Linked DNA regions of Homo sapiens. The protein of the gene in region 1 interacts with the protein of each later gene in a biochemical or structural test. Each region holds a gene or a part of one and is shown on either strand. Other genes may lie near its edges.

Region 1 (7,633 bases):
GATGCTGTGTTTGGGGGGTTGTTTCCAAGTCCCTGCAAAGAAGCACCACTCTAGACTGGCAAGGGCCTCCACAGTGTGGAGGTCCCATTTTATTATTTTTTTTTTTCGAGACACTCTGTCACCCAGGCTGGAGTGCAATGGTGCAATCTCGGCTCACTGCGACCTCTGCCTCCCAGGTTCAAGCAGTTCTCCTGCCTCAGCCTCCTGAGTAGCTGGCATTATAGGTGCCCACCACCATGCCTGGCTGATTTTTGTATTTTTAGTAGAGACGGGGTTTCGCCATGTTGGTCAGGCTGGTCTCAAACTCCTGACCTCAGGTGATTCGCCTGCCTCGGCCTTTCAAAGTGCTGGGATTACAGACATGAGCCACTGTGCCCGGCCCCCATTTTATTTTAGTTTTATTTTGAGACAGAGTCTCGCTCTGTCACCTAGGCTGGAGTGCAGTGGCGCAATCTCACCTCACTGCAAGCTCTGCCTCCCGGGCTCACCCCATTCTCCTGCCTCAGCCTCCTGAGTAGCTGGGACTACAGGCGCCCGCCATCACGCCTGGCTAATTTTTTTTTTTTTTGTATTTTAAGTAGAGACGGGGTTTCACCTGTTAGCCAGGATGGTCTCAATCTCCTGACCTCGTGATCTGCCCGCCTCGGCCTCCCAAAGTGCTGGGATTACAGGCGTGAGCCACCGCGCCCAGCCCCATTTTATTTTTTACTTTAAATGCCTGCCAAGGAGCAGCCTCAAGCCCAGAGAAGACTGAGGCTACGGGGAACTTCCCTTGCTGCAGGCTGTTGTAACACTTTAAGGGCCCCAGGTCTCCACTGCCAAGCAGGACTTGGCACATGAGCACCCACCCCACAGCACCATCAGGCAGCACCCATGGGCTCCACCAGCCCAGCTCTGTCCCTCCCCTAGGTAAAGATCACACTGAAGTCTTCAAGTCCCCAGCAACCAAGTTGGGGGTGGTTTCCTTCCTCTTCAGGCAGCCAGGCCCATGGCTGGAAGGCCGGGCTGGAGGCCCAGGGAATCGGTTACTGATGTGGCCACCCTATTCCCACATGGGGAGCACCAGGAGCCCTGGAGCCCCTTCCACCCAATCCCATCTCGCAGGAGAGCAGGGTCTGGGCTCCTGCCTCACCGCTGGTTCAGCAGCACCCTCCCCGCCGGGTCCCACCTTGCCTTTTGAAGAAGAGCCCGCATAATGAGTGGACGGCAGACAGCTATATTTAGTGGTGCCTCGACACTCACGAACCGCCAGCGTGGCGCCTGGATCTTGCCCAGCTGCCAGCTCCCCCCACCAGGACTGTGGTTCCTCAGTTTCTCCTGCCAGCCCCGGCTCATCTCAGGGCAAAGCTATAGACATGGTAGATCTCATCGGGGAGGTTCTCCTGCCTCTCCTCGGCCAGGAGGCTGAGGCCTGCACTGCAGATGATCCTGCGGACCACGTCAAGGTCCCGGCACACGCTGCTGTCCACGTCGTCCAGAATCACGCCCTCCTGGGCCATGTTGTCTTTGATGACGATGATGCCGTTGGGGCGGAGGCTGCCCTTGCAGCGCCGCAGGAACTCGGCCAGGTGCTGATCGGTGAGGTGGCCTGGGGAGGGCAGAGGCAAGGTTACCAGGGCACCATGCAAGCGGATGTCGGCACTGGATGGGATGTACTTCTCAGCCCCGCTGAGCCCCTCATTTGTGCCCAGCATTTTGTGTGCACACATGGCCTCATTGGCTCTCAGTCCCGAGAGATTTACTAAACCCCAATTCATAGAATAGGAAACTGTGGCTCAGAGGTCATCTACCTAAAGACACATTAAGCCAGAATTTGACTTGACGGGATGGCTTACAAGTCCTGCCTGATACCTACACACCATGATGCCCCACCCCTGCCAGGCTTGGATCGGAGGAGTGAACCTGGGCTAAGAGTTTGGCATTGCAGGAGCTCCCAGAGAGACTGCCTTCCCTACACTAGAAGTCCCCACAAAGGCTTCTGAGACCACAAAATACAAGGCCAGACCTAGAGTGTCCACAGCAGGCCTGTGCTGCCCGCCTCAGGAGGTGGCCGACTGCTGCTAGCGGCCTGCCGCCACGTCAGCAGCCCAGGGCACAGCGCTCGAGGTGTGCTGTTAGGCTAAGAGGGTGCAGGGCTAGACACGAAGCTTAAACTATTCATCTTATTAAAAATAAAACCCTTATAAAACTCCTCACTTTGAATGCAGTAAGTTATTGGCCATTAAAATTTTTTCAACAAAAAACTGCACCCAAATGGATGGTAGCAGGTATTCAACTGAAACAAAACCTAGAAGGAAGAAATCTACCTTTTAGGCCGAGCCTGTCCCTCAGTCCTGGGAAGTACGGGGTGGGGGTGGGCCTGGGCGGGGTGGGGAATCCTCACTGGCCCACTTGCTGCAGGAGTGCAAAGCCCTGGTCCTGACACCTTATGGGGAACGCGAGTGGCAGGAGACATACAGGTGAGCAGGGAAGGGCGGTGGAACCCTCACCTATCACCCACTGGATCCAGATCACGTCGTAAGAGTCCGGCTCCGGGGTGAAGTCCTGGAGCCCACAACAGAAGTAGTTCCTCACCCTCTTGCCCTCCTCCCCCAGGTAGGTCTTGGCTTGAACCAGGAAGTCCTCCGTTATGTCGACCATATCCACCTCTCTGAACAGCGGCAGGAGCAGCCGCTTGGTGATCCTCCCAATGCCAGCTCCACAGTCCAGGGCACAGGACGTTCCTGTCTTGTTCGGGCCTTCCTGAAAAGCAGAGGCATATAACCTATCAGAGGGACCCTGTCACCGCACGTGCGGCCCTTCCTCACGAGCCCTAGGACTTAGACTCAAGTCAGGATTCCAGGACTCCGCACAAGCTGAGCACTGGTGGGGAGGTCTGTGCTGGCTGCCAGCTTGTACGGAGTCGAGGGGATGAGCATGGGAGGACACACTGCTGGGCCACACATTCCTTTATCTTTGAAAGTTCAGGTTGCATTCTGCATTCTGTTCAGGTTGGAATGCAGTGGTGGGATCATGGCTCACTGTAGCCTCGAACTCCTGGGCTCAAGCCATCCTCCATCTTCCCACCTCAGCCTCCCAAGTAGCTGGGACTACAGGCATGCGCCACCATGCCCAACTCATTTTTTTTTTTTTGTATTTTTTGTAGAGACGGGGCCTCGGTCTGTTGCCCAGGCTGGTCTCAAACTCCTGGGCTCAAGCAATCCTCTCACCTTGGCATCCCAAGGGGCTGGGATGACAGGAGTGAGCCACTGCCCCTGCCCTGGGCCACACATTTCTAAATGAAAGCTAATTTCCACTTAAAGGTGATAACTTGAACAGGTGCACTAATCTCTCCTGAGTCTCCAGGTAAACAACGGCAGAGAGGAATGGGGAGAATGGAAGCGGGGCAACAGGTGAACAAGGGTGCAGAGAGGGAACATGGAGGGAGGGGAGGCGCTGGATGGAGCAGGTGGCCAACAGCAGCCTCCAGTGCCAGCCATGAGACAAGAAGGTGGGGGGCTCCAGGACTGGGGGTCCCAGCCTGGTACAGAAAAGGCTGGGGGTGGAGCAGAGGGTGGAAACCATGGCACATAACTAGGAGTCTTCGTCCAGAATAGCCAACACCCTCAGTCCAAACACCCGTGGACATGGCAGGAGAGCAAGGGTTTCGTCCCTGGCAAAACCCAACAGTTGAAGAGAGGTTTGCCCAATTCAGGCACCTCAATTCTGCCTAACAGCCAGCTCCTGTCTGGTAACCCTGAGGCTAAGTCCACAATCTAGAAGTTACCCCACTGTGCCCACCCAGCCCAGCTCCTCAAGGCTTTGGGGTAGGTACCAAGAGATAGCCAACAATCCTGCAGTGTTACATGTGTAAAAGGTGGCACCCCACATGGACTCGGCAGTGCCACCAGAGCCACAGCCTCTCCTGGAGAGCACGCCAGACCTGCCTACCCTCAAAAACCTCTGCAGAAACTTCCGGGAGCTGTTGATGTCGATGCTGGAGATGTGGCCATACCCCCCAAGCATGCCGTCCACCGTGGGTGGGATTTGTTTCCAGTAGGTCTTGGCCTTGGAATAGAATTGCTTCTCGTCTTCTATCACCTCGCTCGTCATGCTGTCACCAACCACGGCTCTACTCAAGCACCACGATCAGCAACCGCGACTCTCCTGGGTAAGGAAGGGGGCGTGAGTCAGCGGGCCAGGGACCTGGCAGAAAGGCCCCCAGGGCAGAGGGCCAGTCTCACACCAGGCTTCACAAGTCACACATCCTGCTGAGTGCAGAGAGAAGTCCAGGGTCCCCAAATCTGCTTCTACCCCTTGGATAACAGCATCTTCTGTCTTTTGCACTCAGAGCACCCGCCCCAAGTCCTGGCTTCAAGTTCTTTTACATTTTTATTTTTTCTGGAGTGCAGTGGTGTGATCATAGCTCAATGCAGCCTCCAACTCCCGAGCTCAAGAGACCCTCCCACCTCACCCTCCGGAGCAGCTAGGACTACAGTTGTGTGCCACCATGCCTGGCTAATTATTTTTTGTAGAGATGGGGTCTCACTATGTTACAAAGGTTGGTCTTGAAGTCCTGACCTCAAGAGATTCTCCCACCTTGGCCTCCCAAAGTGCTGGGATTACGGGTGTGAGCCCATGTGCCTGGCCTGGCTTCAAGTTCTTGATATGCTCTATATGACACCTGACTCAGTGGCTTCAGGGCACAGAAAACCCTGATCAATAAAGAGAAACGACCGCAAAGCCGAGAGCACCAGCAGACCCTGGAGGGCCAGGGAAGCTTCCACGCCTCCCTTCCTCTGGCTCAGAGCACAGCAACAACTCACGGTGGGGTCCAGTCCTCCGTTAACAAGGAGTGGGGACTCTGTGCCAGGCACCGGGCTGTGAACCAGGCAGCCAGCCAGGCAGAAAACAATTCTACAGACACAACCACACCTGCAGGGAGGGCTGCAGAGGAGAAGCGCCAGTGCCAGCAGAGCACGGAGGGAGGAAGTGGAGTCGGGTGCGGGGACCAGGGAAGGCATCCCTGAGGAGGGGACGCGTAAGCTGAAACCGATGGATGGGCAAGAATAAGCGCAGTAGGTGGAGGGCGACGGCACTGCTCCTGGAGGGAAGGACAGACAGCCCTCGCGGCTGCCAGTTCCTGGTCTCACAGTCAACTCTAGCAGTTTCGACTGCATCCTACAGAGCAATGAGTCAACCACCCTGAGGCCCAACAGAGAGTGGCCCGGGAAGACCGATGCTTCTGAAGACTGCTGGCGGCGGTGGAGATGGCAGGGGGATGAGGAGACGGTTGCCACGGTAGAAGGAGAGAGAACTAGAAAGCCTCAGCTGGGTCCTGGCAGCAGAGCCCAGGCCCACCTCACCCTTCAGGACAGCGATGACAGTTGGGCGGCTCCGTGCTCCACGGGTGGCCATTCTGCCATAAGCTTCCCAAGGCACAGTGCTGTCACCAAGGCACACCACGCTTAGGGGCTGTTCTAGTTGCTGTGAGGCTTGCCAAGACCTCAGAGAGCTCTAGTCCAGGAGGACAAAGAACAAAGGGAAAGAAAATACACAGCAGAAAAATAAGGATTCTCATGGACCCACAAAGTGTCGAGGACACTCAAAGGGCAGAGGAATCTCCTCCCAACAGCAGATAGGGGCAGCCGCCTGGAGGAGGCAGCCCGAGCTGGGCAGCCAAGCACAGGGAGTGCTGGAGGGGGTGGGGCAGACAGAGGGAGCAGCCGTGGGACAGCATGGGCCATCAGAGGGCGGAGAGTGGAGCGGGGGAAGACTGTGGAAGGTGAGCTCGGAAAGGCAGACGGGGCCTGGATGAGGGTGGCCTCGAGTGCATGCTGGGCACCAACTCTCGGCTGATGTGTTTCCCACACTGCCAAGGCCTAACCTAAAGGAGGCAGAGTGAGAATGGCAGTGGCCGTGCTGAGGACACACAGCAACAGTGGGTGGTAGGAATCCCAGCAGCAGCAGCTGCTACATCCTGATAAACCCATGGTAAAGGGAAAATACCCTCGGTGGAAAACGCGCAGCTGACTGGGAGCTGCAGCTCACCGCCTCGCACGTGCTGCCTCCACACGAGGAGAGCAGGGGGCTTCTAGCAAATGCCTGTCGCCAAAGTTGACAAATCGTAGGTCCAAGACCGTCTGCCTGACTCCTGGAGCTACAGGGTCAACACGGAAGAGTCCACATATGGAACTCGGGTACAGTCCTCAAACACAACTCAAAGCTTAAGACCCAGGAACACTCTAGGGGCTTCAAGAGAAGTGGTCAGAGGGAAACGGGAAAATGCCCTGAGAAGGAGCACGAGGCCTTTGGGAAGCAACTATGAGGAAAGAGAAGGGAAACTAAACACAAGACAAGCTGGAGAATTTTTTCTTCTTTTTTTTTAGAAAGGGTCTCACTGTCGCCAGACTTGAGTACAGCTCAGGTGATCCTCCCATCTCAGCCTCCAGGGTAGCTGGGACTGCAGGCACATACCGCCACACCTGGCTAACTTTTGTATTTTCTGTAGATATGGAGTTTTGCCACGTTGCCCAGGCTGGTCTCAAACACCTGGCTGCAAGCAATCCACCTGCCTCAGCCTCCCAAGGTGTTGGGATTACAGGCAGAAACCACTGCACCCAGCCAAGATTTTTCATTGGTCAAATTTGTTACTGGCCCCAGAACTATATTCTGCACTACTATATTCTGAACCTGTCCTGAAAGAGAAGGAACTTTCCAGAAGCAGTAGGCCCACCCCGCCCAGCCAGCTCAAGAATACTTCTAACAGATGCAACGGGGTTCTTCTTAGATCCGTGATTGGGTCTTCTCACCCTTAGCAGAATCCTTTGGCTGTGCCTAGAGAGAAGCCTGCTTAAACTTCTCTTCAGATTCTTGTTTTTTTGAGATGGGGTCTTACTATGTGGCCCAGGCTGGCCCCAAACTCCTGGGCTCAAGCCATCCTCCCTGCTCAGCCTCCCAAGTAGCTGAGATTACAGGCGCACGCCACTGCACCTGGCTTCCCTCTTCAGATTCTTGAATCCGCTCGCAGACTGACCCCTCACTTTACTGTTCACGCACAAGGGTTTCAGCCACAATGAAGAAAGGCAGCAGTCACTTCACCAATCAGGGAGCCCTTTGGGGTAACAGGCTGGGGAGGACCTTAGTTCTAAATATTGCACATAACACCCTCCCCGCAAGCTGACCACAAAGCTCCCACACTGGTGTCCCAGCACTGGGAACAACACTGCCGGAAGGAGAAAGAAGCCCACGGCTCAGAAACCCCATCTCTGTCAAAAATACACACATTCTAGTAGCTACTAGGGAGACTGAGGTGGGAGGATCACTTGAGCCTGGGAGGTCAAGGCTGCAGTGAGCCATGATCCTGCCTCTGCATTCCAGCCTGGGCAACAGAGTGAGACATTGTGTCAAAAAAAGAAGAAGAAGAATGAATTCTTCTTCCCACCAGACCTGCCAATCCTCAAGACTGCTAGATGTGCCCGGGTAGCTGACAGGAAAAAGGGCCACCAATCTGAATGTCACCATGTAGCTGGGTTTGGTGGCTGCTATGGTCTGATGGCGTAAGGACCAGGTTAGGTGGGCTGCCTGCCCCTCTGCCAGCAGGTACCGGAGCAACCATGTCACAGCCCTCCATCAGTCACTCAAGAGAGGACGG
Region 2 (7,633 bases), on another chromosome or scaffold:
ATCTCGGCTCACTGCAGCCAGGTTCAAGCAATTCTCCTGCCTCAGCCTCCCAGGTAGCTGGGATTACAGGTGCCTGCCACCACACCCAGCTAATTTTTGTATTTTTAGTAGAGACAGGGTTTCACCATCTTGGCCAGGCTGGTCTTGAATTCCTGATCTCATGAGCCACCCACCTCATCCTCCCAAAGTGCTGGGCTTACAGGCGTGAGCCTCCGCGCCCAGCCTTAATTTTTGTACTTTTAGTAGAGATGGGGTTTCTCCATGTTGGCCAGGCTGATCTCGAACTCCTGACCCGCCCAGGCTAGAGTGCAATGGCACGATTTCAGCTCACTGCAACCTCTTCCTCCTGGGTTCAAGCAATTCTCCTGCTTCAGCCTCCTGAGTAGCTGGGATTACAGGCGCCTGCCACCATGCCCAGCTAATTTTTGTATTTTTAGTAGAGACGGGGTTTTACCATGTTGGCCAGCCTGGACTTGAACTCCTAAACGTCAGGTGATCCACCCGCCTCAGCCTACCAAAGTGCTGGGATTACAGGCGTGAGCCACCGCGCCTGGCCATTTTGTGTATTTTTAGTAGAGACCGGGTTTCACCATTTTTGCCAGGCTGGTCTGGAACTCCCGACCTCAGGTGACCTGCCCATCTTGGCCTCCCAAAGTGCTGGGATTACAGGCATGAGCAACTGCACCTGGCCTTTATTTTTATTTTTTTAGTTTTGTATTTGTATTTTTTATTTTATTTTGAGATGGAGTCTCATTCTGTTGCCCAGGCTGGAGTGCAGTGGTGCAATCTCGGCTCACTGCAACCTCTGCCCCCTGGGTTCAAGCAATTTTCCTGCCTCAGTCTCCAGAGTAGCTGGGATTACAGACACGCACCACCATGCCCGGCTCATTTTTGTATTTTTAATAGAGACAGGGTTTCACCATGTTGGCCAGGCCGGTCTTGAGCTCTTGACCTCAAGTGATCCACCCATCTCGGCCTCCCAAAGTGCTGGGATTACACGTGTGAACTACTGCGCCCAGCCCCAGTTGTTTGTCTCAAGAGTCTCACTCTGTCATCCAGGCTGGAGTGCAGTGGCAGGATCTCGGCTCACTGCAACCTCTGCCTCAGCCTCCCGAGTAGCTGGGACCACAGATGTGCACCACCATGCCCAGCTAATTTTTTTTTTTGAGACGGAGTCTCACTCTGTTGCCTAGGCTGGAGTGTAATGGCGTGATCTCAGTTCACTGCAATCTCTGCCTCCTGGGTTCAAGCAATTCTCCTGTTTCAGCCTCCCGAGTAGCTGGGATTACAGGCGTGCACCACCACGTCCAGCTAATTGCCCATCTAATTTTTGTATTTTTGGTAGAGACAGGGTTTCACTATGTTGGCCAGGCTGGTCTTGAACTTCTGAGCCTCAGCAGTCAGCCTGCCTTGGCATCCCAAAGTGTTGGAATTACAGGAGTGAGCCATCGCAACTGGCTGATATGGAGGTTCTGGCTGTAATAATGTACTGTGGGTTTTATAACATATATAAAAGTAAGACACATGACAATATCAAAGACTATATAGTGAGAAATGGAAGAAATATTTATTTATTTTTTCGAGACGGAGTCTCGCTCTGACCTCGTGATCTGCCTGCCTTGGCTTCCCAAAGTGCTGGGATGGATTACAGGCGTGAGCCACTGTGCCCAGCCGGAAGATTGTTTTTTTTTTTTGAGATGGAGTTTTGCTCTTGTTGCCCAGGCTGGAGTGCAATGGCATGATCTCGGCTCACTGCAACCTCTGCCTCCCAGGTTCAAGCAATTCTCCTGCCTCAGCATCCCGAGTTGCTGGGATTATAGGCATGTGCCACCATGCCCGGCTAATTTTGTATTTTTAGTAGAGACGGGGTTTCTCCATGTTGGTCAGGCTGGTCTTGTACTCCCGACCTCAGGTGATCCGCCAGTCTCAGCCTCCCAAAGTGCTGGGATTACAAGTGTGAGCCACCACACCAGGCCGCCAGAAGGTTTTTTTTTTGTTTTTTTTTTGAGACGGAGTCTCGCTCTGTCGCCCAGGCTGGAGTGCAGTGGCGCGATCTTGGCTCACTGCAAGCTCCACCTCCTGGGTTCATGCCATTCTCCTGCCTCAGCCTCCCTAGTAGCTGGGACTACAGGCACCCGCCACCACGCCCGGCTAATTTTTTGTATTTTTAGTAGAGATGGGGTTTCACCGTGTTAGCCAAGACGGTCTTGATCTCCTGATCTCGTGATCCGCCCGCCTCGGCCTCCCAAAATGCTGGGATAACAGGCGTGAGCCACCGGGCCCCGCCTTTTTTTTTTTTGAGACGGAGTCTTGCTCTGTTGCCTAGGCTGGCACGATCTCAGCTCACTGCAACCTCTGCTTCCAGGTTCAAGCAATCTTCTGCCTCAGCCTCCCAAGTAGCTGAGACTACAGGCGAGCACCACCACACCTGGCTAATTTTTTTTTTTTTGTATTTTTAGTAGAGGCGGGGTTTCACCATATTGGCCAGGCTGGGGAAGATTCTTATACTACAAGTGAACTGGTTTAATATCAATTGAATGTGGACTATTGTAAGTTAAAAATGTATAATATGGCTGGGCATGGTGACTCATGCCTGTATTCCTAGCACTTTGGGAGGCCAAGGTGGGAGGATTGCTTGAGCCCTGGAGGTCAAGACCAGCTGGGACAACATCATGAGACCTTGTCTCTACAAAAAATACAAAATTTAGCCAGCCATAGTGGCACATGCCTGTGGTCTTCACTACTCAGGAGACCGAGCTGGGAGGATGGCTTGAGCCCAGGAGTTCCAGTTTAAGGCTGCAGTGAGTCATAATCTTGCCACTGAACTCTGGCCTGGGTGACAGAGTGAGACCCTGTCTTAAAAAAAAAAAGTAAATAGCCTAAACACTCCAATTAAAAGACATAGACTGTCATACTGAAAAACCCAACATGTTACCTACAAGAAATAAAATTTTAAAATAAGGCCAGGCACGGTGGCTCATGCCTGTAATTCTAGCACTTTGGGAGGTCAGGGCAGGCGGACTGCCTGAGCTCAGGAGTTTGAGACCAGCCTGGGCAACATGGTGAAACCCCATCTCTACTAAAATACAAAAAAATTAGCCAGGCATGGTGGTGCATGCTGTAGTACCAGCTGCTCCAGAGGCTGAGGCATGAAAATTGCTTGAACCTGGGAGGCAGAGGTTGCAGTGAGCTGAGATCGCATCACTGCACTTCAGCCGCGCAAACCCCATCTCTACTAAAAATACAAAAAAATTAGCTGGGCGTGGTGGTGCGTGACTGTAATTCCAGCTACTCCGGAGGCAGAAGTTGCAGTGAGCTGAGATTGTGCCACTGCACTCTGGCTTTGGCAACAGAGTGAGACTCTTGTCTAAAAAAAAAAAAGAGGCTGGGCGCGGTGGCTCACACCTGTAATCCCAGCACTTTGGGAGGCCGAGGCGGGTGGATCACAAGGTCAGGAGATTGAGACCATGGTGAAACCCCATCTCTACAAAAAATTAGCAGGGCATGGTGGCAGGCACCTGTAGTCCCAGCTGCTGGGGACGCTGAGGCAGGAGAATGGTGTGAACCCAGGAGGCGGAGCTTGCAGTGAGCCAAGATTGTGCCACTGCACTCCAGCCTTTGGAGACGCAGTCTCCAAAAAAAAAGAAACTAGCAAGGATAGATTTGAACAACACTAATACAACAACAATAATACACTTTCAAGTAGCCCATAGATCAAAGAATAGAAAAGGAACTCAAAAATATTTTGAAATGAATTAAAATGAAAACAAAACATACCAGAATTTGTGTGTTGTTAACAGTATCTGGAGGAAATTTATAGCACTAAATGCCTACATTAGAAAAAAAGAAAGGTCTCCAATCAATGAGCTCAGCTACTAGCTTAAGAAACTAGGAATAGATGAGCAAACTAACCCCAAAATAAGCAAAGAAAATAATAAAGATAAAAACAAATCAATAAAAAAGAACACAGAAAAATTAAATCAGCCAGTGCTTGCTATATGGCAGGCACAGTACAAGAATAAGTACTGAGTTTACATATGCAGTCTCTTGAGGATCCTCCAAGTAGGTTAGATGGACATAAAATGGAAAATAACCAGATCAGAATACTAATGACCAGGAAGAATGATCAAGGTGCCAGCCTGCCTTCAAGAGCCAGTGAGGCCATTGTGGATCCTTAGGGAAAGGGGAGGTGAGGATAGTGGTTAAGAGATCAAGGCTCTGCCGGGCGTGGTGGATCACCTGAGGTCAGGAGTTTTGAGACCAGCCTGGCCAACATGGCGAAACCCTGTCTCTACTGAAAAAAAAAACACAAAAATTAGCCGGGTGCGGTGCAGGCGCTTGTAATCCCAGCTACTTGGGAGGTTGAGGCAGGAGAATCGCTTGAACCCAGGAAGCAGAGGTAGCAGTGAGCTGAGATCACGCCACTGCACTCCAGCCTGGGAGGCAAAGACTCCATCTCAAAAAAAAAAAAAAAAAAAAGGATCAGGCTTGAGGCTAGGCGCAGTGGCTTACGCCTGTAATCCCAACACTTTGGGATGCTGAGGCAGGTGGATCACTTGAGGTCAGGAGTTCGAGACCAGCCTGGCTAACATGGTGAAACCCGTCTCTACTAAAAAATGCAAAAAAAATTAGCCGGGCATGGTGGCGTGCGCCTGTAATCCCAGCTACTTGGGAGGCTGAGGTGGGAGAATTGCTGGAACCCGGGAGGTGGAGGTTGCAGCAAGCCAAGATGGCTCCATTGCACTCCCTCCTGGAGACAGAGTGAGATTAGATCTCAAAAAAAAAAAAGCTGGGCATGGTGGCTGACGCCTGTAAACCCAGCACTTTGGGAGGCCGAGGTGGGCGGATCACGAGGTCAGGAGATGGAGACCTTCCTGGCTAACATGGTGAAACCCCTTCTCTACTAAAAATACAAAAAAATTAGCCGGGTGTGGCGGCGTGCACCTGTAGTCCCAGCTGCTGGGGAGGCTGAGCTTGCAGTGAGCTGAGATTGTGCCACTGCACTCCAGCCTGGGCGACAGAGCGAGACTCCCTCTCAAAAAAAAAAAAAAACAAAAAACAAAAAATTGGATACTGTATCCTTGGTTTCTGAGAAGTCACAAAAGAATGTTATTTAATAAGTGATCATGCTGCTGCACTCCATCTAGAGACCCTAAGAATCTTTTCACAAATACCAACTCCTTTGTCCTTATTACAACTCTATGAGGTAGTTTATCACTTATTTTGTGAACATGAAATTGAGGCAGAGGGGCTGAGTAACTCACCCAAAGTCTCATGAACAGCAAGTGGTGGGATCAGGATTCAAACCCAGTCTAGTACTCCTAAGATAGGCAACCAATACTGTCTGCCTACACAAAGAACAAGGCCAGAAGTGCCTGTTTGGAAAGTCTAAAAAAGGGGTATTGCAAGCTGAAGTTTAGCAGAGTGGGACCTGAACACCTACTGACAGCTTTGCTTCACCTCTACCTTGCAAGTCAATAGAAATTCATTCATTTCCTGCCCAGCACTGCAGTTACCCAAACCCACCTGAGTATATGGATTGAAAACATACTAAAACCACTGGTTCAGAAAAAAATCACTTTACTCAGGTGAGATCTATGTAGTTACAGCAGGACACGGATGGGACTGGGCATACAGACGAATGGGGCTGACTCATCTGGCTTCTTCCTGAGCAGGGAATTTGATGCTTGTTTCTGCAGAGGTGCCACTTCTAGTTGTGGACTTGGACAATTAGTCTTTTGGTTCCTGGGATTCCCCATTGGAATATGCTGTATTAAAGCCCACTTAGTGCTTACCTAGAACAGTGCCTGGCACAGGTAAGCACAAATACAATTGCTTTAGGAAGATGCCTTTTTTTTGAGACTTAACTCTGTCACCAGGCTGGAGCGCAGTGGCAAGGTCTCAGCTCAGTACAACCTCCATCTCCCGGGTTCCAGCAATTCTGCCTCAGCCTCCCACAGGTGCACACCACCATGCCCAGTTATTTTGTATTTTTAGTACAGACAGGGTTTCACCGCGTTGGCCAGGATCTCTAGATGTTGTGATCCGCCTGCCTTAGCCTAAGTGCTGGGATTACGGGTGTGAGCCACCAAGCCTGGCTGCATTTAACATGCCCTCTTAAACACTGCCTCACTCCTCTTAGCTTGTAAGAAAAATCAAGCTGTGTTCCCCCACAATCATAGCTAGTAACTAGCTTCCATTCTCAAACCAACCCTGACCTCAACACCTTGGCAAGCAAGCTCTACAGTCCACCAAACTCCAATCTCACCCACCTCCCTCAAACCTGTCTCCATCAAGTTCCAAATGGCTTAACGGCTGTCCCACCTCCCCTATGCCAGTAGGTAACTTTACCTTCTAGATGATCCCCCTTCAGTCCCATCCTTCAGGGTACTGAACATTTATGTTGGCAGCCAGTGCAGGGGGCTTGACAAAGTTTCCATTGTGACTCACGTCATGAGGCAAGCAATTCTGGCAATCTTCAGGCGGAGGTGCGCCAGGTAGTAGAGGCTCATACAACTCATCAGCTAGGGATACAACCTCCCGTTGCTACCATCGATTTTTCCTCCACTACACTGCAGGAAGCTAAAGAATCGGTCTAACTCATCTTGCACTCAACCCAGACTTACGGTCCTATTGGTCAGGACCTAATATCCATTTTCCCAATAAACTGCCAATATAAAGTGAACCCAAGGGGGACCCACCTGAGACTAGGTTTCAGGGCCTTTAGAACTGAAGCTATCATGCTAGTTTCCTTCAACAGTACCATTCAGATTCTTGGCTGATGTCACCACAGCCACCTCCACAAAAATGAACCACAAACATGCAGTCGTATTTATTTTAATTCATAAATACATTAACATAGCAGATTAGGCAATTTGTTAGGTAAATTACAAATACATTAGAAATCATACAAAAGTGGCCGGGCAGGGTGGCTCACAGCTGTAATCCCAGCACTTTAGGAGGCTGAGGTGGGCGGATCACGAGGTCAGGAGTTGAGAACAGCCTGGCCAATATGGTGAAACCTCATCTCTACTAAAAATACAAAAATTAGCCAGGTGTGGTGCTACACGCCTGTAGTCGCAGCTACTTGGGAGGCTGAGGCAGGAGAATCGCCTGAACCTGGGAGGCGGAAGTTGCAGTGAGCAAGATCATGAAAAGCAAAATACTCAAGGACTTTTAATATAACCACCAACACAGTGTGCCTTCTGGCCAAGCAGAGTCACTTCTGTGGTTCTTAAAGTATGAATGAGGTGAAAGAATGTGCATTCCTAGCTAAATGCCAAATTCCAAAGCCTTTAGTACAAAAACAGCAGACTTTCTGCAAAACAGGTCGACTTTTAAAAGAGGTATGAGGGCTGGGCGTGGTGGCTTATGTTTGTAATCCCAGCTACTTGGGAGGCTGAGGTTGCAGCCAAGATTGCGCCACTGCACTACAGCCTGGGCGACAGAGCAAGACTCTCAAAAGGAGGCATGAAATGCACCTCAATCTTTTGCTCCAAGTCTGCCAAAGATTGTCAAACCCTCCCTGTTAAAAAAAAAAATCAGTTTACCTACTCTCCCTTCTATATAAAGGACCCTAAAATTAAATGTCAATGCCAAAATGCGAAGTGCAGATCGTCTTCTCTCCTAAAAG
Region 3 (7,633 bases), on another chromosome or scaffold:
CACAATTTTTTTTAAAAAAAGCAGTATTACTTGTTAGAGTTTTTTTTTTTTTTTTTAAAGACACAGGATCGGGCCAGGAGCAGTGTCTCAAGCCTGTAATCCCAGCACTTTGGGAGGCCAAGGTGGGTGGATAACTTGAGGTTAGGAGTCTGAGACCAGCCTGGCCAATATGGTGAAACTTGGTCTCTACTAAAAATACAAAAATTAGCTGGGCGTGGTGGTGCACACTTGTAATCCCAGCTACTCAGGAGGCTGAGGCAGAAGGGTCGCTTGAACCTGGGAGGTGGAGGTTGCAGTGAGCTGAGATCTCATGCCAGTGCACTCCAGCCTGGAAGAGAGAGTGAGACCTCATCTCAAAAAAGAAAGAAGAGGAAATAATAAATATGAGGAGAGAAATGGAAGACATGAAAAAAAATCCAAATTAAACTTCTAGAGGGGATATACAGTATCTGAAATGAAAAATACGCTGGGCTACTTTGCCTATGGAGCAGCCCTGCTCTGCACAGGCAAGAAAGAGAAGAGAAAAGGAAGAGGAAGAGAAGAGAGAGAAAGGAACGAAGGGAGGGAGGGAGGGAGGGATTGACAGCAGAAGGTTAGATATTACAGAAGTAAAGATCAGTGAACAACTGCACAAAATGAAACAGGGAAAAAGACAAAAATGAACAGTGCATCAACCACCTGCAGGACCATATGTAATCGCAGTCCCAAGAAAAAAAGAACTGTTCTTTTTCTTCATTTTGAACTCTTTGTAAGAAATAATGGGCTGGGCAAGGTGGCTCACGCCTGTAATCCCAGCACTTCAGGAGGCCAAGGTGGGCGGATCACTGGAGGTCAGGAGTTCAAGACCAGCCTGGCCAACATGGTGAAACCCTGTCTCTACTAAAAAAATAAAATAAAAATAAATAAATACAAAAATTAGCCAGGTGAGGTGGTGGGCACCTGTAATCCCAGCTACTCGGGAGGCTGAGGCAGGGAGAATCGCTTGAACCCTGGAGGTGGAGGTTGCAGTGAGCCGAGATTGTGGCACTGCACACCAGCCTGGGCGACAGAGTGAGACTTTGTCTCAAAAGAAAAAAAAAATCCATAAATCAAAGAAGCTTAGTGATCCCCCCACAAGCACATCATAATCATTTTTAAAGCGACCAGAAGAAAAATTACATAGACAGGAACATAAGGATAGTAGCAGACTTCTCATCAGGATGTTTTGTTTTGTTTTGTTTTTAATTGAGACAGGATCTTGCTCTGTCACCCAGGCTTGCCTAGCTCACTGAAGCCTTGTCCCCCTGGGCTTAAGCAATTCTCCCACCTCAGCCTCCTGAACAGCTGGAACTACAAGTTCAAGCCACTAGCTAATTTTTAAGATTTTTTTGTAGAGATGGGGTCTTGCTGTGTTTCCTAGGCTGGTCTTAAAGTCCTGGCCTCAAGAGGTCCCCCAGCCTCAGCCTCTCAAAGTGTTGAGATTACAGGCATGAACCATTGAGCCCAACTAGAAATCATCTTTATTTTTATTCTTTATTTATTTATTTATTTTAGACGGAGTCTTGCTCTGTCACCCAGGCTGGAGTGAAGTGGCCGATCTCGGCTCACTGCCAGCTCTGCCTCCTGGGTTCACACCATTCTCCTGCCTCAGCCTCCCAAGTAGCTGGGACTACAGGCGCCCACCACCACGCCTGGCTAATTTTTTTTGTATTTTTAGAACAGACAGGGTTTCACCGTGTTAGCCAGGGTGGTCTCAATCTCTTGATCTCGTGATCCGCCTGCCTCGGCCTCCCAAAGCGCTGGGATTACAGGTGTCAGCCACCGCGCCCAGCCTTATTTATTTATTTTTGAGACACAGTCTTGCTCTGTCACCCAGAATGGAGTGCAGTGACACCATCTCGGCTCACTGCAACCTCTGCCTCCCAGGTTCAAGATTCTCATGCCTCAGCCTCCCGGGTAGCTGGGATTACTGGTGAGCGCCACCACACCCAGCTAATTTTTGTATTTTTAGTAGAGGCGGGGTTTCACCATGTTAGCCAGGCTGGTCTAAAACTCATGATCGCAAATGATCCACTTGCCTTGGCCCCCCAAAATGCTGGGATTACAGGCGTAAGCCACAGCGCCCAGCCTAGACATCATCTTTAAAGTACTGACAGGAGAAAACTGTGAACAAATATATTGTATGCAATAAAATACAATTTTAATTTACCAATTAAAAAATAAAAGTTAAATAATTTTAAAAACTGTGAACCTAGAATTCTATACTTAGCAAAAACATCCTCCCTCAAAATAAAGGCAAAATACTTTTCTAGATAAACAACAGTGGAAAGTATTTATCACCAATCTGCATTATAAGAAATATGAAAGGAATTTCTTCAGGCAGAAAGAAAATATTACCAAAAGGAAATCTGGATCACATGAAAGAATGAAAGCACTGGAAATGACAATATGTGGGCAAATAGAAAAACCTTTTCTCATTTAAAAAGTATCTTTAAAACATTCCTACTCTATAATCCAGCCATTCCACTGCTAAGTATTTACCCAAGAAAAATGAAAACATATATCCACACAAATACTTGTACGTGAATGTTCACAGTCGCTTTATATGTTGCATTCAAAAACTAGAAAAAAATTCAAATGTCCTTGAACAGGTAAATGAATAAACTGTATCATATCAGTACAATGTGGCTGGGTGCAGGGGCTCACGCCTATAATCCCGGCACTTTGGGAGGCTAAGGCAGGAGGATAGCTTGAGGCCAGGAGTTTGAAACCAGCCTGTGCAACACAGTGAGACCTCTGTCTCTATAACAAAATTTTAAAATTAGCCAGGTATGGTGGCCTGTGCATGTAGTGCCAGCTACTCAGGAGGCTGAGGTGGGAGAATCGCTTGAGCTGAGGAGGTTGAGGCTATGCTGAACCATGATCATCCCTGGGTGACACAGCAAGACCCTGTCTTAAAACAAAAAACAATGAACCATTATTCAGAAAGAAAAAAAAAACTACACATAAAAATGTAGATAAATTTCAAATAATTATACTGAAACAAGCTAGAACAAAAATAAAAGACCATATATTCTATGATTCTATTTATATATAGTTCTAGAAAATGTAAATTAATTTCTAAAAATAAAAAATAGATCAGCAGTTTACAGTGAATAAGATATTGGGTAGAGAGGGGTGGATTACAAAGGGGCATAGATAACTCATCTATCTATCACTCTCCAAATATTCAACAAAGGGTGGGGAAATGGGAGTTATTTTAATTGTGGTGATGGCTTCACAGTTGTACACATATGTCAAAACTCATGGAATTGTACAATTTATTCTTTTTTTCTTACTGCTTCTCTGGAGTAGGACTACCCCATAGGCTGAGAATAGCCAAATTGTACACTTGAAATAGCTGCAGTTTATGTCCACTATACCTCAATAAAGATATAATTTTAAAAACCCAGGCCGGGTGCAGTGGCTCGTGCCTGTAATCCCAGCATTTTGGGAGGCCGAGGCGGGCGGATCACTTGAGGTCAGGAGTTCGAGACCAGCCTGGCCAATATGGTGAAACCCTGTTTCTACCAAAAATATAAAATTCAGGCTGGGCACGGTGGCTCACACCTGTAATGCCAGCACTTTGGGAGGCCAAGGCAGGTGGATCACCTTAGGCCAGGAGTTCAAGACGAGCCTGGCCAACACGGTGAAACCCCGTCTCTACTAAAAATACAAAAATTAGCTGGGCATGGTGGTAGGCTCCTGTAATCCCAGCTACTCAGGAGGCTGAGGCAGGAGAATCATTTCAACTCAGGAGGCAGAGGTTGCAGTGGGCCGAGATCGTGCTACTGCACTCCAGCCTGGGCAATAGAGTGAAACTCTGTCTTAAAAAAACAAAACAAAACAAAAATTAGCTGGTGTGGTGGTGCATGCCTGTAATCCCAGCTACTCGGGAGGCTGAGGAAGGAGAATAGCTTGAACCCAGGAGGCGGAGGTTGCAGTGAGGTGAGATCGCACCACTGCACTCCAGCCTGAGCGACAGAGCAAGACTCAGACTTGGAAAAAAAAAAAAATAGTGTACACATGCACAGAGGGATGCTGAAAATGGGGATTTTGGATCATATTTAATTTATTTTTTACACTTTTCTCTGTATTTTATGATAAGAATACACTGTTTTGTTTTTTGAGAGATGGAGTCTCACTGTGTCGCCCAGGCTGGAGTGCAGTGGCACCATCTCAGCTCACTGCAACCTCCACCTCCCAGGTTCAAGTGATTCTCCTGCCTCAGATTCCTGAGTAGCTGGAACTACAGACGTGCACCACTACTCCCGGCTAATTTTTGTATTTTTAGTAGAGACAGGGTTTCACTATGTGTTGGTCAGGCTGGTCTCGGAACTCCTGACCTCAGGTGATCCACCCGCCTCGGCCTCCCAAAGTGCTGGGATTACAGGCGTGGGCCACTGCGCCTGGCCCCATACATTGTTTTTATAATAGGAATAAAATTAAGCTATCTTCATTGTGAAACTGTAATACATGTTCCCTTGCCAAGGGCCTGAAGAATGTAAAGGTCACAGCCAAGGTCAGATGACTAAAGAAGTGACAAAATGAGGCACTGTTGCTCCTCCAGTAACTGGTCTCAAATCAGCATTCTGCTGTCAGCATCTGGGAGTAAAACCAGACAGGTCTCTTCCAGACTGCCATACCCTTCCTCTGCTCCAACCTAGCTCCCTGCAAATGCAAGCCACAAAATTCAATGCCTAGACCAATCTTCATTACAGTGTAAAGAAAGTTTACACTGTAAAGAAGGTTACACGCATGTCATAAGGTGATGCAACAAAGAAAAAAAGCAATCTCAGTCTGGCACAAGTTCAAAGCACTTGTCATTATCCTGTTAGTCAGGAAGCTCTTCCCCTAGAATACCCTACACTGCTTCTTCCCATCTCCAGGCATAAGCTAAATTCCTCTATTCCCATGTCCTAGACTCCTGGAGAAAACAAGAAAACAAATTTCTTCCTGTCTGAGCTCTGGGTTCTGACTTCAACTTCAAGCTGCCTTATTAGCGGTCACCTGCCTCTTTAGCTGGGCAGGAAACCTACCCCACTCTGTCCGCGGCACTCCTCTGACTGCCTTTCTGGGGGCTTCTGGCACTTGTTCCTTGAACACCCATCTCACACTTTGAATTCCAGTCTCCCACACCTGTCTAACCTGGCCTTTTCTGGTGGTCTGCTCTCCAAATCCCTCCACTTAAGAGACCTCCTGCTGGCTGGGTGCAGTGGCTCACGCCTGTAATCCCAGCACTTTGGGAGGTCGAGGCGGGCGGATCACGAGGTCAGGAGATCGAGACCATCATGGCTAACACGGTGAAACCCCATCTCCACTAAAAAATATAAAAAAAGTAGCCGGGTGTGGTGGCGGGCACCAGTAGTCCCAGCTACTTCGGAGGCTGAGGCAGGAGAATCGCGTGAACCTGGGAGGCGGAGCTTGCAGTGAGCCGAGATTGCGCCACTGCACTCCAGCCTGGGCGGCGGAGTGAGACTCCATCTCAAAAAAATAAACAAATAAATAAATAAAGAGACCTCCTCCTGGGTTCCCCCTCATGTCTACCTTTAAACCAGAGCTAGAAAAATAGTGGACTGAAGCAGAATTCGGCTGAGACGTGTGTTTAGTTTCATTCAGTGCCAATATTAAGACGTTCTAGAGGCCCAGCACAGTGGCTCAGCCCTGTAATCCCGAGCAATTTGGGAAGACAAGACAGAAGGATTGCTTGAGGCCAGTAGTTTGAGACCAGCCTGGGCAATATAGAGAGACCACATCTCTAAAAATTAGCCAGGCATGGTGGTGCGTACCTGTAGTCCCTGATACATGGGAGGCTGAAGCCGGAGGATTCCTTGAGTCAGGAAGGTGGAGGCTGCAGTGAGCTATGGTTGTGTCACTGCACTCCAGCCTGGGTGACAGAATGAGACTCAAAAAATAAAAATAAAAAAAAATAATGAAGTTCTGGAGACTGCTTACACAATTTACCCAACGCCATTGAACTGTGCACTTTAAAATGGTTACGAAAGTAAATTTCATGTTATATGTATTTTATCATTATTTTTTAAAAAGTTGGCTGGGGGCGGTGGCTCACGCCTGTAATCCCAGCACTTTGGGAGGCCGAGGCAGGCAGATCACAAGGTCAGGAGATAGAGACCATCGTGGCTAACACGGTGAAACCCCATCTCTACTAAAAATACAAAAATTAGCCAGGCGTGGCAGCATGCACCTGCAGTCCCAGCTGCTGGGGAGGCTGAGGCAGGAGAATGGCATGAATCCGGGAGGCGGAGCTTGCAGTGAGCCAAGATTGCGCCACTGCACTCCAGCCTGGGTGACAGAGCGAGAGTCCGCCTCAAAAAAAAAACACTTTTAAATGGTTAAGGTGATACATTTTATGTTACGTGTATTTTACAATTTTTTTTAAAACTCAAGATATATGACATTTAAAAAATGAGGATTTGTGTCTTTGTTTGAGAAAAATCACATCTGATATCAAAAGACCTACATTTTTGCACAACAGTCATCTCTAGTTTACCCCTGACCCTACCACCATACATTCTTTTTTTTTTTTTTTCCACTCTGGCTTCTGGAGCCCTATAAGTTTGTGACTCCTGCTCTAAACCCAGTGTCACTTTTCACAGCACAGCCCTCCAATGTCAGCCACCAGCTGGGCTGGCTAAAGGTCCTAGAGGGGACGACACACTCACCCCTCAGCAATGGATGATAAACTCTAGCACAACAAAGACCATTCCCAAGAACTCTGTGCCAAACCTCACCCAGTCACACTATGTCTTTCCTTCTTTTCTCTCCATTTATCTAATACTGCTCCTCCTCGCTCATCCATGGAGTCTTCTTTATTGACTCCAATTCACAAGGGGTTCTTCCTTCTTTCACATTCTGTAGCACTTGGCATCTGTATTGTTAATTACCTCGTATGTATACATCCCATCTGCTCAATTACACTTCAAGCCCCTCACTCATTCAACAAATATAAAGCAGCTACTCTAGGCCAAACTTTGTTCCAGGCACTGGGAATAGGATGGTGAACCAGAAAGGAAAGGTCCCTGCCATCAGTGGGCAAACATACAAATAAGCATCAGATCTCAGACACCCATCAACACTTGGGGGAAACATGAAGCAGGGTAATGATACAGGGAATGACGGTGGAGGAGTGGGATCTACGTTATGAGTAAGGACAACCAGCGAAAGCCTCTTTGAAGAGGTAGAATCAGCAAAGACCTGCAGAGAAGACGCCAGCCATGAGAAGACCATGGGGGAAAAGCACTCCAGTCAAAGGGAACAGCAATTACAGAGACCCGGTTTCAGGAATAGAAACAGCTGGTGTGGCTACAGCATAGAAGTGAGAAAAGACAATGGCGTAAGATGAGGTCAATGTGGTAAGAAGGGGCTTCAATTCTTTTTTTTTGAGATGGAGTCTCGCTCTGTTGCCCAGGCTGGAGTGCAGTGGCGTGATTTCGGCTCACTGCAACCTTCGCCTCCCGGGTTCAAGCGATTCTCCTGCCTCAGTGTCCCAAGTAGCTGGGACTACAGGCGCACACCACCACATCCAGCTAATTTTTTGTATCTTTAGTAGAGACGGGGTTTCACCATGTTGGCCAGGATGGTCTCCATCTCTTGA

Evidence for each region.
Region 2: the proteins of NTMT1 (region 1) and RCC1 interact in a biophysical measurement, tested with the Homo sapiens proteins (one study listed by BioGRID and IntAct).
Region 3: of the proteins of NTMT1 (region 1) and DDB2, one has a biochemical effect on the other in vitro, tested with the Homo sapiens proteins (one study listed by BioGRID).

Annotation. Positions count from the first base shown.
Region 1 is NC_000009.12:129,629,163-129,636,795, reverse strand, and holds the end of NTMT1 (N-terminal Xaa-Pro-Lys N-methyltransferase 1), read right to left. Parts: intron 4,147-7,633; 5' UTR 4,093-4,146; coding exon 3,931-4,092; intron 2,743-3,930; coding exon 2,490-2,742; intron 2,192-2,489; exon of another isoform or gene 1,589-2,191; coding exon 1,332-1,588; 3' UTR 661-1,331; downstream 1-660. UniProt on the Homo sapiens protein: Distributive alpha-N-methyltransferase that methylates the N-terminus of target proteins containing the N-terminal motif [Ala/Gly/Pro/Ser]-Pro-Lys when the initiator Met is cleaved.
Region 2 is NC_000001.11:28,508,823-28,516,455, reverse strand, and holds part of RCC1 (regulator of chromosome condensation), read right to left. Parts: intron 7,627-7,633; 5' UTR 7,551-7,626; exon of another isoform or gene 5,564-7,550; intron 1-5,563. UniProt on the Homo sapiens protein: Guanine-nucleotide releasing factor that promotes the exchange of Ran-bound GDP by GTP, and thereby plays an important role in RAN-mediated functions in nuclear import and mitosis.
Region 3 is NC_000011.10:47,217,678-47,225,310, reverse strand, and holds part of DDB2 (DNA damage-binding protein 2), read right to left. Parts: intron 1-7,633.